Linked DNA regions of Homo sapiens: region 2 is linked to region 1. Evidence: fine-mapped expression QTL. Tissue or cell type: Th2 cells. Region 1 holds a variant in brackets; the other region holds the start of a gene. All regions are shown on one strand. Distances are from middle to middle.

What was found. PIP is the estimated chance that this variant, and not a neighbour inherited with it, causes the effect.
Region 2: PPIL3 starts here. The variant in region 1 is fine-mapped to the expression of PPIL3 in Th2 cells (Schmiedel 2018, PIP 0.90).

What each region holds. Positions count from the first base shown.
Region 1 is chr2:200,840,354-200,843,114 of GRCh38, reverse strand. No RefSeq gene overlaps it. Among named protein-coding and RNA genes, the nearest start is that of CLK1, 23 kb to the left of the region's middle. The variant C/T (reference allele first, on the strand shown) is at 1,453.
Region 2 is chr2:200,887,997-200,890,496 of GRCh38, reverse strand. It overlaps PPIL3 (peptidylprolyl isomerase like 3), which reads left to right and starts at 1,420. Exons shown (of 7, transcript NM_130906.3): 1 at 1,420-1,541. NIF3L1 (NGG1 interacting factor 3 like 1) reads right to left here and starts at 1,126. Exons shown (of 7, transcript NM_001369441.2): 1 at 845-1,126. RefSeq lists enhancers at 343-592, 851-1,595, 1,483-1,732, 585-1,784, 1,853-1,902 and 1 more.

The DNA of each region.
Region 1 (2,761 bases):
GTTCTTCTGTAAATATTTGGTAAAATTCATAAATAAAGCCATTGGGTCCTGGGCTTTTCTTTGTTAGGAGACTCTTTTATTATGGCTTTGATCTCATTACTTGTTATTGGTCTGTTCAGATTTTGTATTTCTTCATGGTTCAGTCTTGGTAGGTTGGATGTGTCTAGAAATTTATCCATTTCTTCTAGGTTTTCCAATTTACTGGCATGTAGCTGCTCACGGTAGCCCCTAATCATCCTTTGAATTTCTGCACTATTAATTCTAATTTCTCCTTTTTCATCTCTGATTTTATTTATTTGGATTTTCCTTCTTTTTTCTTAGTCTGGCTAAAGGTTTGTCAATTTTTTTTAACTTTCCCAAACAACTTTTTGTTTCATTGATCTTTGGTATTGTTTTCTTCATTTCAATTTCATTTCTTTCTGCTCTGATCTTTATTATTTTTTTCCTTCTACTAATTTTGGGTTTGGTTTGGTCTTGCTTTTCTAATCTTTGTTTGTTTGTTTGTTTGTTTGTTTGACAGTCTATCACCCAGGCTGGAGTGCAGTAGCACCATCTTGGCTCACTGCAACCTCCCCTTCCTGGGCTCAAGTGATCCTCTCACCTCAGCCTCCCAAGGAGCTGAGACAAAAGGCATGTGCCACCACGCCGGGCTCATATTTGTAGTTTTTGTAGAGATGGGGTTTCACCAAGTTGGCCAGGCTGGTCTCAAACTACTGGCCTCAAGTGATCTGCCCGTGTCGGCCTCGCAAAGTGCTGGGATTACAGGCATGAACCACTGCGCCTAATTCTTTTTTTCTTTTTTTTTCTCTGAGACAGAGTCTCGCTCTGTCGCCCAGGCTGGAGTGCAGTGGCTCAATCTCGGCTCACTGCAAGCTCTGCCTCTTGGGTTCACGCCATTCTCCTGCCTCAGCCTCCTGAGTAGATGGCACTACAGGCGCCCGCCACCACGCCCAGCTAATTTTTTTGTATTTTTAGTGGAGACGGGGTTTCACTGTTTTAGCCGGGATGGTCTCGATCTCCTGACCTCGTGATCCGCCCGCCTCGGCCTCCCAAAGTGCTGGGATTACAGGCGTGAGCCACCGCGCCCGGCCCACTGCACCTAATTCTTTAAGATGTATCATAATTTGAAGTTTCTCTTCTTCTTCTTCTTGGTTTTTTTTTTTTTGAGCTGGAGTCTCAATCACTCTATTGCCTAGGCTGGAGTGCAATGCCACGATCTCAGCTCACTGCAACCTCTACCTCCTGGGTTCAAGTGATTCTCCTGCCTTCCTGCCTCAGCCTCTGGAGTAGTTGGGATTACAGGCGCACTCCATTATGCCAAGCTAATTTTTGTATTTTATAAGTTGAGATGGGGTTTCACCATGTTGGCCAGGCTGGTCTCAAACTCCTGACCTCAAGTAATCCGCCCACCTTGGCTTCCTAAAGTGCTGGGATTACAGGCATGAGCTGCTG[C/T]GCCTGACCTTTTTCTTTCTTTTTTTGAGACAGAGTCTCGCTCTGTTGTCCAGGCTGGAGTGCAGTGGCACAATCTTGGCTCACTGTGACCTCCGCCTCTTGGGTTCAAGCAGTCTGCCTTGGCCTCCCGAGTAGCTGGGATTATGGACGCCCACCACCATGCACAGCTAATTTTTGTATTTTTAGTAGAAATGGGGTTTCACCATCTTGGCCAGGCTGGTCTCAAACTCCTGATCTCAAATGCTCTGCCCGCCTCGGCCTCCCAAAGTGCTGGGATTACAGATGTGAGCCACCACACCCAGCCAATTTCTCTTGTTTTGATTTCTAGTTTTATTCCATTGTGATCACAGAAAATACATGATATCATTTCAATTTTTTCCATTTTTTTTTCTCGCTTTTTTTCACTTTTTTGTTTTCTTTTTACCTTTTTCTTTTTTTTTTTTTTTTTTTTGAGATGGAGTCTCGCTCTGTCCTGCAGGCTGGAGTGCAATGGTGCGATATTGGCTCACTGCAACCTCCGCCTCCCAGGTTCTAGTGATTCTTCTGCCTCAGCCTCTGAAGTAGCTGGGATTATAGGCGCCCACCATCACGTCCAGCTAATTTTTTTTTTTTTTTCAGGTCGGGTCTCGCTCTGTCACCAGGCTGGAGTACAGTGGCACGATCTTGGCTCACTGCAACCTCCGACTCCCTGGTTCAAACGATTCTCCTGCCTCAGCCTCCTGAGCAGCTGGGATTACAGGCATGTGCCAGCACACCCAGCTAATTTTTGTATTTTTAGTAGAGATGGGGTTTCACCATGTTGGCCAGGATGGTCTTGATCTCCTGACCTTGTGATCTGCCCACCTCGGCCTCCCAAAGTGCTGGGATTACAGGCGTGAGCCACCGCGCCCAGCCTAATTTTTGTGTTTTTAGTAGAGATGGGAGTTTCACCATGTTGGTCAGGCTGGTCTCAAACTCCTGACCTCAGTTGATCTACCCGCCTCAGCCTCCCAAAGTGCTGGGATTACAGGCATGAGCCACTGTGCCTGGCTTTTTAAACCATTTTTTAAGATCCTGCTTGTGCTCTATTCTGTATCTATTAACTTTTTTCCACTCATGTATATACCAATTTTTGAATGTTTTAAGACTTGTTTTTTTTTTTTGAGACTTTTTTAAGACTTCTTTTGTTTTTTTGAGGAATCTTGCTCTGTCACCCAGGCTGGAGTGCAGTGGCGCAATCTCGGCTCACTGCAAGCTCCGCCTCCCGGGTTCACGCCATTCTCCTGCCTCAGCCTCCCAAGTAGCTGGGACTACAGGCACCCGCCACCAC
Region 2 (2,500 bases), 48 kb before region 1:
GTCAATTATTCCAAAAGCAATTTTTCAACATTTCTATTTAATGAGATGAAGATGCTTGTTTAACACATTATTTGAAGTGATACAGGGTCTCCAAAAACCACTCGAGGTCTTGGAAGTTTGTTTTTGTTTTTTTCTTTTTGACACAGGGTTTCACTAGGCGCCTAGGCTGGAGTGCAGTGGCGTGATCTCAGCTCACTGCAGCCTCGACTTCCTGAGCTCAAGCAGATCCTCCCACCTCAGCCTCCTGAGCAGCTGGGACTACAGGCGCTAAACACCACACCTGGCTAATTTTTGTATTTTTAGTAGAGATGGGGATTCGCCATGTTGCCCAGGCTGGTCTCAAACTCCTGCGCTCAAGTGATCCACCTGCCTCGGCCTCCAAGAGTACCGGGATTACAGGGGTGAGCCACTGCGTCCGGCCTTGAAAGATCTTCTAATGGTCCTCATAGTACTCCATTCTCCAGCATTTTCTACATCTGGCAAGCTCGAAAGTGAAACCCTAGTGGGCCATCATGCAGGTTTTGAGTTATTTACTGTTACAGATGAGGAAACTGCGAAGCTACATGGCCACAGTCAACAACGACAACAGAAGGCAACATAGTATGGCGGTTAAGAGCACCGACTCTGAAGCCAGCCTGAATCCTAGAGCCAGAGCTGTGCAACAGCAGGTAAATGACTTATCCTGTGCAGTTTCCTCCTTAATGGAAATAGTGCCCAGGCCACAATATCGCGAGATTTACACGTAAAGCTGGAAACAACTCCCGTCCTAGAGTAAGCACTGTTTACTATTAAGCAGCATCAGTAGGGCCCCTTTGCAACCTGCAAACCGCTCCCTCGACGTTACCTCATCTATGCCTCATTTCAGTGCCACTTCAGGCCTTTTCCAGGACAGTGAAAAACCACGAGACACAGCCAGTTAAGTCTGAGTCAGGACCCCTGTCCCACTAGTGCGCTGTGCTCTGGTGCGGCAGGGCAGTTTTCTGACCCAATCTCCTCTTCTGCTGTCCTCTGCAGCACCAAGATAACAATCACAGCCGGCCCCAACCGGCACCTACCGCGAAGGTCACAACTACACTCGCGGGTTTTTAAATCGCCCACTACTCACCAGTCCCGGAAACTTCTCTGCGTCACTTCCGGTCCCGCGTCGGCGCTCCGGATGCTGTGGCACTTGGCTCCCCGTAGCGGGAGAGCTGGGCGGAAGTGGTCCTTTCCGTTTGGCAGCCGAGTGTAAAGCATTGCTTGAGGTTGCCCAGGTAGTTTCGCCTTACACTTCTTGTCCCAGTGCAATTATTAGTAGAGCTCCCTTTCACTGTCAAATTTCCGGTTGGGGATAAATTGCATTGTCGTTTTGGTTTGAGATAGGAAGATGAGGGGAGGAAGGAGGTGAGGCGGTAAGGGGCGTTCTCTCTCTTGGGTCCCGCGCCCAACTTCCGCTGGCCCAAAGAAACTATAATTTTGAACCAACAGACCTCTGCTGGCATCTGCGATTGCATTTTTCCTGTTTTAACAACGGCTGTGCTAGACGAAGTGGTGAAGCCCAAGTATGGAGTAACGTCATTAATTCTTTCATTCACTTATTCGAATGCTTGCTGAGTTCTGTGTTGCTACTGGTTTAGTTCTTGGGATACTGCGAGTGAACAGTGGGCGGCGAGGCTGTTGTTGCAACGTCAGAGTAAAAGAAGGACCCTGCACGGCGGCCTCCCAGCACTTCGGGAGGCCGAGGCGGGCGGATCACCTGAAGTCAGGAGTTCGAGACCAGCCTGGCCAACACGGCGAAACCCCGTCTCTACTAAAAATACAAAAATTAGTCGTGCATGGTAGCGCGCGCCTGTAGTCCCACCTACTCGGGAGGCTGAGACACGACAATCACTTGAACCCGGGAGGCGGAGGCGGAGGTTGCAGTGAGCCGAGATCCTGCCGCACTGCACTCCAGCCTGGCGACATAGCGAGACTCCGTCTCAAAATGAAAAAAAAAGAGAAGTTCATAGTATATTAGTGATAAGTGCTGTGGTGGAAAAAAAAAAGTTCATAGTATATTAGTATAAGTGCTGTGGTGAAAAAAAAAAAAAGCGAATTTCATAGTATATTAGTGATAAGTGCTGTGGGAGAAGGAAATAGGAATGTCCTAGGGCTGAAGGGCTAAAGCAGTTCTGTGTAGGATTGTCAGGTCAGTTAAACTTGACATTTAAGCAGAAATTTGGAGGTGAGGAAATTAGCCGTAGAGATGTCTGAGTATAAGAATTCCAGGCAAAAGGGACACCCAATGCCTGGACCCTAAGGGAAGGTATCTGGGTTATTGGGGGACTTGCAAGGAGGCTCTTGAAGAAGAGCAAGCCGGGCAAGTAGGAGATTGGGAGGCTTGAATCGGGTAGGATATCTTCTATAGCCGGGTTTTTATTACCTAGGGGATGCCATTAGAGGATTTTTTTTTTTTTTTTTTTTGACGGAGTCTCGCGCTGTCACCCAGGCTGGAGTGCAGTGGCGCGATCTCAGCTCACTG